2 separate regions of the Homo sapiens genome follow, and region 2 is reported to be linked to region 1. Evidence: microRNA targets listed by miRTarBase, many of them from high-throughput screens and not tested one by one. Region 1 holds a microRNA gene; the other region holds the end of a gene's coding sequence.

The links. Region 1 holds the annotated microRNA hsa-miR-4320 (GGGAUUCUGUAGCUUCCU, at 3,067-3,084, shown strand). A microRNA usually pairs through its seed, bases 2 to 8, with sites in the 3' UTR of a target mRNA and lowers its output. Matches are read on the target gene's strand: a 7mer-m8 pairs with bases 2 to 8, a 7mer-A1 pairs with bases 2 to 7 and ends in A, and an 8mer does both.
Region 2: miRTarBase lists SUMO2 as a target of hsa-miR-4320. Seed matches in the 3' UTR shown: 7mer-m8 at 4,176-4,182.

The regions. Positions count from the first base shown.
Region 1 is chr18:50,124,371-50,129,592 of GRCh38, reverse strand. It overlaps MIR4320 (microRNA 4320), which reads left to right and starts at 3,030; the gene lies at 3,030-3,094. All of the region lies in intron 1 of MYO5B (myosin VB), which reads left to right. RefSeq lists a silencer at 635-694 and an enhancer at 1,037-2,236.
Region 2 is chr17:75,163,617-75,168,838 of GRCh38, forward strand. It overlaps SUMO2 (small ubiquitin like modifier 2), which reads right to left. Exons shown (of 4, transcript NM_006937.4): 4 at 1,970-4,785. The coding sequence ends at 4,723. Among named protein-coding and RNA genes, the nearest start is that of JPT1, 12 kb to the left of the region's middle.

The DNA of each region.
Region 1 (5,222 bases):
TTACTACAGAAAGGCTCTAGGAAATGGGCTGGCGTATGGTGAGGTGTCTGTAAGTACAGCTGTTATGATCACATCTCTGGTATTAGCTCGTGGATCATTTGCCTGCATTCCTTAAATCAGAATGCTGGACAAGAGCTCCAGTGATTTGAGTTTTCTGCCTTATCGGAGTTCATTTCCTGTTTCCTTTCATGGAATATATATGGTGTTTTAGTTACATTGGTGGCATGACAATTAATATAGGGCAGAAGCTTGTCTGTTGAAGTTCCCTTGAGGAGAAAGGGATGCCCTGGGTTTGTGGTAAGTGTGCTGTGTGGACAGCATTTGCTGGAGTCTATGGGATTGTAAATGTGAGATAAGCTCTAGCTCCAGCTCCAGGAATTGCTGTACTGGGAAGTCCCTGCCCTCTCCACAGTCCTGCTTGGGCCCAGCCCTCCATCCCTCTCCGTCCATCAGGCCATGCTCCCACCACCGTGGGGCCTGGCCTGGGCTCCTTTCACATCACTGAGCATTCCCTGCCACCTCATTCTCCTGAGCCGGCTCTGACAGCCCTGCATTAAGCAGTGACTTACCGTGAGATTTGGCAGGTGGTTCTTCTGTGATTTTAATTAGGCCCTGGGTGTGTTTTGTGAAGGTGATCCTCTGCGGGTTTGTCAATAAAAAGCCTGCTTTTCCAGCCGGCAGCCGCTGATTGGGTATTCTGAGGCTTCACACCAAAGCAGTTTCTGGTGGAAGGTGGTTTCCCCCTTCTCACTGGGCCACTTCCTCCTCCAATGTTCTTTCACATTTTATCCTCACATTCCTTCTGGTACGCATGTCACAGGGAGGGAAACTGAGACCCGGAGGGCTTGAGTGACAGACTGGGGATGTGTAAAGGATCTCGGATTCTTAGGTGCTGGCACGTGGCCTTCTCCCTGGGCTCTTTGGCCTTTGTACCTGGGCAGGGTGCAGAACTGCTCTCCGAGCTGTTGATAAATCCAAGGGAGTGTGAGAGTCCTCTGTTCTCAAGGCACGAGAGACTTCCTGTCACTGAGCTAGGCGCTGCTATCGCACCCCACATGTCTTCTCCTACCTGGACAGGTATATGCTGCTGGCCTCCTGGGCTCCAGGCTTTTCTACGCTTATCCATGTGGGATCACTTCTCCTAAACTCTGCTTTTGTGTGATTCTCAAGATCACAGGCACCCCATCTACCTGTGTGGAGGGTCATGTTCAGAATCCATCAGCTGTTCTCAGATCAGCTGTTGCACCTCACAGTCCTCATTCCTGTTTGTTCTCTCTCCCCCTTCAAAGCCATTTTCTCATGGCCTTCCTATTCTCTCATTTTTTCACATCTTCGCTTTTCATTCAATTTCTTAGACTTCTGGAAGCTTTCCTCCCCTTTTACTCTCTGCCAAACCAATAGTAGTGTATTAGGATTCTCTAGAGAAAGATAACTATAGGAAATACACATATTTATATATTATGGAATTACTCACACAATTACAGAGGCCAACAGGTCCTAAGATCTGCATTCAGCAAGCTGGAAACCCAGGAGAGCTGATGGTGTAGTTCCAGGCTGAGTCCAAAGGCCTGAGAACCAGCAGAGTCAGTGGTGTAAGTTCCAAAAGCCAGCAGGCTTGAGACCTGGAAAGAGCTCATGTCTCAGTTTGAGTCTGAAGGTGGGAAAAATAGCAGTGTCCCAGCTCAAACAGGCAGGGTTCCCTTTTACCCAGACTTTTTGTTCTAATTGGGTTTTCAACTGATTGCATGAGGCCCACCCGCAGTGGGGAGGGCAACCTGCTTTACTCAGTCGACTGACTCAGATGTTAACCTCATCTAGAAACAGCTTCATGGACACACCCAGAATAGTGCTTGGCCAAATGTGTGGGCACCCAGTGGCCACATAAGTTGACACATAAAATTGATCATCCCAGTAAGCAATCTTTAAAGCCCCACCTAAATCCCACCTCTTCCGTGAGGTTTTCCCTGATTACATCAACTTACACTTGACTGGCTTAGCTGGATTCCTCTACCTTTTATGCGCTCCACCAGGGCTCAGCAATTAGTGGTACCTGCCCCTCCATTGTTCTCTTTCAGCTGAGGACTCCTTACCTCCTCTACCAGGTGTGAAGGGTGGCAGATACCATGAGTTTGACCACTCTTGTCTTCCCTGTAATGTAGAGCACTGCATCTGTTGTAGGTGCTCAGTAAAAGCTTGTTCTCTTAGCCCAGTTTTCCAGTAGATAAAGTGAAGCGTTCAAAACTTGGCTGCTGGGATTACAGACCAAGATGATGGGCTTGGAGAACCTGGGTTCTTGGTTCCTACAGGCACTAGAAGAAAGGATGGCCAGTATCTGGTATATAATAGGTGCCCAAATATGGTTGAGATGCTAGAAATTTTCATCAAATGCTTTTGAATTATCGTAAGTGCCACAGTGTGGTGGGAAGAGTAGGGGGCTCTAACTAGCAATGTAAACTCAAGCAACTTGCTCTTCCTTTGCCTCAATTGCCTATGTTAACTGGGGGCAGTTTGATCTTGCCCCACCTGCCTCTTGGGTCTTATGAGGTTGGAATAAGGTAATAATGATTATGAGAATAACAGCTAACTCTCTATGTGGCAAGGATTGTTCTAAAAAATACTTTTTAAAAACTTGCTTTTTTCTGTGACACTAACCAATGAATTGTAAAAACTTCCTGTATGTCAGCTCATTTAATAACCCTATTTTACAATGAGATGCTGAGATTCAGAGATCTAGTAACTTGCCCAAGGTTACAGAGCCAGAGAGCAGCAGGGCTGGGATTCAAGCCCAGGAAGTCTGGCTTCACCATGCATGCTCTTCACTGCCATAGTGTGCTAGAAGATGGTGTGAAAATGCATTGGAGGCTTGGAGAGCTGTGCTGCTGTTCTGAGACCCATTTGATCAGGTCCTGGAGATGATTCACGCATGACTGCTGTTCACTAGGGAGTTTGCTAGAGCTTGGACCACGTATGAATTGAGAGCAGGAATGTGTGCAAGCTCTTGACTTGTCAAGGCCTTTGCTCACCAGAGTGACATGTGGGGTTTGCTGTAGACATTTCAGATAACTCGGGATTCTGTAGCTTCCTGGCAACTTTGCCCTGACAGCCCCCACTTTGTGGTCCCCTGTGATTTGCCCTCTTAGCTCCATTCTTCACTTTGTGGTCTCTGCCTTAATTGAATTAAAAGATGGTTGATGTGTCTCCCCAGTGGAATGCAGGTTCTATCAGGGCAGGGCTAGAGGCTGTTTTGTTCACTACTGTGTCTCTAGTGTCCAGTGTGGTGTTTGGTCTGGCCAGGGGTGCCCACATCTGGAAAATAAGCATTATAGTAAAGGACCTGTTTCCCTGTTTCAGGGTTGTTTGTTTTTATTATGGTAAAATATAAGTAAAATTTACTGTTTTTTAACTTTTAAACATTTTTTAGTTGTGGTAAAATACACATAACAATTTACCATTTTAACCATATTTTCACCATTTTTCAGTATACAGTTCAGTGGCATTAAGTACGTTCACATTGTGTGCAATCACGACCACCATCCAAGAACTTTTTCATTATCCTAAACAGAATCTCTGCACCCATTAAACAGTAACCCCTTCCTCGCAGCCCCTGGCACCCACCAGTCTACTTTCTGTCTCTATGGATTTGCCTCTTCTAGGTCCCTCATGTAAGTGGAGTCATACAGTCTTGTCCTTTTCTGGCTTATTTCTCTTAGCATAGCATCCTGAAGGTTCATCCATGTGATAGTATGTGTTAGAATTTCCTTCCCTTTTAAGGCTAATAATAATGAATTGTATGGATAGTCTGCTTGTTGATCCACTGATCTGTGAATATTTGGGTTGTGTCTACCTTTTGTCTATTGTGATGAATGTGTCTGTGAACTTGGTATACAGCTATCTGTTTGAATTCCTGCTGTTGATTCTCTCAGTTACATTCCTAGAAGTAGAATTGCTGAATCATCATAGGGTCATTTTGAAGATTGAATAACCTAGTATTTGAACTGTTCCTGACACATAGCAAGCACTATATATGAGTGTTTGCTAAATAAGACTTTTCTTTCTTTTTATTATTATTACTATTATACTTTAAGTTGTAGGTTACATGTACACAACGTGCAGGTTTGTTACATATGTATAAATGTGCCATGTTGGTGTGCTGCACCCATTAACTCGTCATTTACATTAGGTATATCTCCTAATGCTATCCCTTCCCCCTCCCCCCACCCCACAACAGGGTCCGGTGTGTGATGTTCCCCACCCTGTGTCCAAGTGTTCTCATTGTTCAATTCCCACCATGAGTGAGAACATGCGGTGTTTGGTTTTCTTTCCTTGCGACAGTTTGCTCGGAATGATGGTTTCCAGCTTCATCCATTGATGCATCTCTTAACATTCATTGTTCAGTTTGATATTTAGAAAGGTGTGCAGCATAGTGCCCTTGAGAAAGAGAAGCTGTAAAGGTAGGTTTGCGCTCTGTTCAATACCATTCAAATGGCTTGGAGACCCTGGGGCTTGTGCCAGGCCTTGCAGTCAGCAGGGGTACCATCTGTGGCAGGCTCCCCAAAAGTAGGGCTAGGAGTCAGGGTGGGCTTGGTTTCTGAAGACTTCTGCTCCAGCTGCTTATATCCAGTCCTTGATTTGAGTCTGGTTTCCATACTGTAGTCTCTTTATTGATCCTTGCAGCCTCTGTCCTCTCCCAGTCTGGGGAAATTAAAGTGGGGCTTCCCAATTCTTATGTTGTTATCTGCAGTTTATTAAGAAAGACTGTACACATTCCTGAAATAAGTTGACGCTTAAAAATAACATATACTTTTCAAAATGATCAAGCGGGGTGGGGCGGGGGGAGAGATGTGTCAATTGCAAGCAGTGATGTGGAGTTACTGATAGGAAGGGCACCAGGGGGGAAAGATTTCACTTTGCTCACAGCAGGTTTATGCATATTCCAGATGAGGGATTTGCACAGGGATTCTATGCAGGCTATACATGTCTTTCCTTCTGGTTCCAAAGCATTTTCTAGTTACAGGGTATTATTCTTCAAAAGTTTTTTGTTGTTGTTGTTTTCTTTTTTTTCTTTTTAACATTCACTTGAAAACAACTTGAAGTAGACAATCACACTTTCCCTAATCCATTTAATAGAAGAGCAGAACGATGACTCCCATAATAGGAATGCCGCTACCCCATGAGTTGAAGGAGAGTGATGGGACCATGTGCATGGGAAAAGGTGTACCAAC
Region 2 (5,222 bases), not on the chromosome of region 1:
CTGTCACCCCACTCCCAGAAAATAAAAATTAAAGTATGTATTTTTTTTTAAGACATAATGCTACCGAATACCTGACTACAATATAAACTTTTTTTTTTCCAAGACAGGGTCTTACCCCGTCAACATAGCTGGACTGCTGTGGCGCGATCACAGCTCATTGCAGCCTCGGCCTCCCCCCGAGCTCAGGCAATCTTCTCACCTCAGCCTTCAGAGTAGCTGGAACTACAGGCATGCACCACTGCACCTGGCTTTTATTTTTTGTAGAAACAGGGTCTCACTATATTGCCAGGGCTGAACATAACTTTTATATGCACTGAAAAACCAAAAAATTTGTGTGACTCGTTTTATTGAGATGACTTCTTTATTGTAGTGCTGCAGTCTGGGACCAAGCCCGTAGTCCCTGTGAGGTATGCCTCTATTTCCTACCACAACCAGCAGTAACTTTCAAGTCACCATTTAGATAATCAGAACTCTAACTCATCCTGTAGATGGATGCTTTGCTTCTTAGGGTACCAAAGAGACAGTGAGACTCTGTCTCAGAAAAAGAAAAAAAAAAAGATAAAAACAAAAGACAACTTACATGTGGGAGACACCATGCTAGGCATCTCAAACACACATTGCCTGGGCACGGTGGCTCATTCCTGTAATCCCAGCACTTTGAGTGGCTGAGGCGGGTGGGTCACTTGAGGTCAGGAGTTCGAGTCCAGCCTGGCCAACATGGTAAAACCCCATCTCTACCAAAAATATAAAAAATTAGCCAGGTGTGATGGCACACGCCTGTAATCCCATCTACTCGGGAGGCTGAGGCAGGAGAATCACTTGAACCCAGGAGGCGGAAGTTGCAGTGAGCTGAGATCCTGCCACTGCACTCCAGCCTGGGGGACAGAACAAGACTCCATTAAAAAAAAAAAAAAAAAAAAAAAAAGTAGGCCGGGCACAGTGGCTCACGCCTGTAATCCCAGCACTTTGGGAGGCCGAGGCAGGCGGATCACGAGGTCAGGAGATCAAGACCATACTGGCTAACACAGTGAAACCCCGTCTCTACTAAAAAATACAAAAAACTAGCCGGGCATGGTGGCGCGTGCCTGTAGTCCCAGCTACTCGGGAGGCTGATGCAGAAGAATGGCGTGAACCCGGGAGGCATAGCTTGCAGTGAGTCAAGATTGCGCCACTGAACTCCAGCCTGGGCAACAGAGTGAGACTCCATCTCAAAAAAAAAAGTAAAATAAACAGGGCGCGGTGGCTCCCGCCTGTAATCCTAGCACTTTGGGAGGCCAAGGTAGGCGCATCACCTGAGGTCAGGAGTTTGAGACCAGCCTGGCCAACACAGTGAAACCCCGTCTCTACTACAAATACAAAAAAATCAGCCAGGCATAGTGGTGGGCGCCTGTAATTCCAGCTACTTGGGAGGCTCTGTCTCCAAAACCAAACAAACAAAAAAACCCCACAAATTTTAAAAAAACAAGCTGGTGGCACTGTACATATAGGAAAATTAGTCTAGCTGATTCAAGAGTAAAATTCATACATATACAAACATAAAGAAAAATCTACTGCATTCCTGTTGTCACTGGCAATGCTCATTTGCTATAGAAACAGGGAATGTAAAGAGTGTATCAAAACAAAGGTACAGCAGCCGGGCGCGGTGACTCACGCCTGTAATCCCACCACTTTGGGAGGCTGAGGCGGGCAGCTCATGAGGTCAGGAGATCGAGACCATCCTGGCTAACACGGTGAAACCCCGTCTCTACTAAAAATACAAAAAATTAGCCGGGCATGGTGGTGGGTGCCTGTACTCCCAGCTACTCAGGAGGCTGAGGCAGGAGAATGGCGTGAACTCGGGAGGCAGCTTGCAGTGAGCCGAGATCGCGCTACTGCACTCCAGCCTGGGCAACAGAGCAAGACTCCGTCTCAAAAAAACAAAAAACAAAGGTACAGCAGATTAAGAGAAATAACACATAATACTACATGGTGACTTGATGGTAGATTATATTGGTAGGTTGACAATCAGTATGGACAAAAACAATCAACAAGCATTAGGATACTATCTCTAGTCCCAGTTTTATAGTCACCGTCTATTTCACAACTTTTCTGGAACTTGGCTTTCTCATCTATAAAATGGCAGTGAGGCCGGGCGCAGTGGATCATGCCTGTAATCCCAGCACTTTGGAAGGCCAAGGCGGGTGGATGAACTGAGGTCAGGAGTTTGAGACCAGCCTGGCTAACATGGTGAAGCCCTGTCTCTACTAAAAATACAAAAAAATTAGCCGGGCATGGTGGCGGGCACCTTTAGTCCCAGCTACTGGGGAGGCTGAGGCAGGAGAATGGCGTGAACCCGGGAGGTGGAGCTTGCCGTGAGCCAAGATTGCGCCACTGCACTCCAGCCTGGGCGACAGAGCAAGACTCCGTCTGAAAAAAAAACAAAAACAAAAACAAAAACTGTAGTGGTTGGGCATGGGGTCTAACACCTGAAACCCCAACACTTTGGGAGGCCAAGACAAGGGACTGAGGCCAGAAGTTCGAGACCAAACTGGTCAACATGGTGAGACCCCACCTCTAATTTAAAAATAATAAAAATTTGGCCGGGCACAGTGGCTCAAGCCTGTAATCTCAGCACTTTGGGAGGCCAAGGCAGGCAGATCACCTGAGGTCGGGAGGTGGAGACCAGCCTGACCAACATAGAGAAACCCCTTCTCTACTAAAAATACAGAATTAGCCAGGTATGATGGTAGATGCTTGTAATCCCAGCTTTTCCGGAGGCTGAGGGAGGAGAATCAGTTGAACCCGGGAGGCGGAGGTTGCAGTGAGCTGAGATCATGTCATTGGTCTCCAGTTGGGGCAACAAGAGCGAAACTCCATCTCAAAAATAAACATTTTTAAAAAATTAAAAAGGGGCTGGGCATAGTGGCTCACGCCTGTAAACCCAGCACATTGGGAGGCTAAGGCAGATAGATCACTTAAGATCAGGGGTTTGAGCCCGGCCTGGACAATATGGCGAAACACTCTCTATAAAAAATACAAGAATTAGCTGTGGTGGCATGCACCTGCGGTTCTAGCTACTCACGAGGCTGAGCAGGGAGGATCTCTTAAGACCTGGAGGTGGAGGTTGCAGTGAGCCAAGATCACACCATTGCACCACTCCAGACTAGGCAACAGAGGCATAACCTCTTTCAAAAAGACCTAAGACGGGAGGCTGAGGCAGGAGAATGGCGTGAACCCGGGAGGCGGAGCTTGCAGTGAGCCAAGATTGTGCCACTGCACTACAGCCTGGGAGACGGAATGATGCTCCATCTCAAAAAACCACCACCAAAAGAAACCCTAAGAAACAAAAATTAAAATAATAAAGACTGTAGTGACCTGTATATTTAAGGTTCTGAGGATGGATATATATAGATATTTTCTGTCCCTCAATATTCTTGAATAGGCCAGGCGTGGTGGCTCATGCCGTAATCCCTGCACTTTGGGAGGCTGAGGCGGGTGGATCACCTAAGGTCAGGAGTTCGAGACCAGCCTGGCATACGTGATAAAACCCTGTCTCGACTAAAAATAGAAAAAAAATTAGCTGGGCGTGGTGGCATGCACCTATGACCCCCCAGCTACTCAGGAGGCTGAGGTTGCAGTGAGCTGAAATTGCACCACTACACTCCAGCCTGGGCAACAAGAGGAAAACTCCGTCTCAAAAAAAAAATCCTTGAATAAGGAACGAAAACTTTATTTTAGGTTAGGGAGTATTTACTTATGATAAGTGCAGGCTAGAATGGTTCAGTGTTTTATCAGCAACAAAGGCAAAATCAGAACTTTTTCCTTGCCACATGTGCTACCCTATACCCTATGCTCCGTGCCTCACTTAATATACAGAAAATACCTGGAAATCCACGATACTATGGCCCAATTTTTCTGCTAGTATACTTGCATATTAACATGGGACCTAGAGAAACTTTTGGAACAAGGTGATATTTATAAAACTGTTATTCTTTGTTTGGCATCAGTATCAGTCTGTCAGAAACACCAAGTAGCTTTATTTCCTTCTTGAAATGTTACTTCTAAGCAGGCCTATTTATGTTTTTTCTAAGCCTCAATTTTCTATTTAATATTTCTCAGAATAAAGAAAACAGCTCATTTTAAACAAGAAGTTTATTTAAACAACAAGACGCTTGACTTGAAGGGAAAACTATCTAGGATTCTTTTTTGTTTTAGAGTAATTTATCCCTACTTAAAGACAGATTGCCCTACATGTAACAGCTACGTACAAAAAAGTTATAAAATTGTCCTTGGTTTTACAATGATAAATGAAAAACATTAAAATTCTCCAATTGAACAAGGTATGCAAGGATTTTTATGTTGTTGTTTTTTTTTTTTGTTAAAACAGTGAGAGCAAAATAACTTACTGGAATATAAAGATAAGAGCTGAATGAGCATGCCACTAATGGAGAAAGGGGGTATTTTCACAGAATCAGTATTTTTCCCCATCCCGTCTCCACTTGATGTCAATCAAAACATACCATTGGCTGTTTAGTTAAAAAAAAAAAAAATGCAATATGCTTGTGCACATATACCAGTTACTTTATGTACAATAAAGGAATGGGGAAGGGGGAAATGAAAGAATAGAGAAAACTATACGGTAGTAGTCAGGATGTGGTGGAACCAAATTGCAGTTTTCTAATTGAGAATGTAATCTTGGTCTTTAAAGAACAGAGTTCTGGAGTAAAGAAGCAGGTTCCCTTTTCAGTAGACACCTCCCGTCTGCTGTTGGAACACATCAATTGTATCTTCATCCTCCATTTCCAACTAGCATAAAAGAAAAAACAAATGTAAAAGCACTGATTAAGTTCTGAAAATTAATGATTTTTGGGTTTAAGTATGCTGAAAACATGTACATGTTCCACTAAGTTCCAAGTTTCATTATTTTAGATGTCTCATAGCTTAATGTATCAACACACTTGGTTTAAGTAATTTTTCACTTGGCTTCCTTTTTTATGACTATTAGATAAAACTTTTTTGTTTTTTTTTTGAGACAGGATTTCTGTCACCCAGGCTGGACTGCAGTGGCGTGATCTCAGCTCACTGCAACGTCCACCCCTCAGGTTCAAGCAATTCTCCTGCCTCAGTCTCCCAAGTAGCTGAGATTACAGGCATCCGCCACCATGCCCAGCTAATTTTTTTGTATTTTTAGTAGAGATGGGGTTTCGTCATGTTGGCCAGGCTGGTCTCAAACTCCTGAGCTC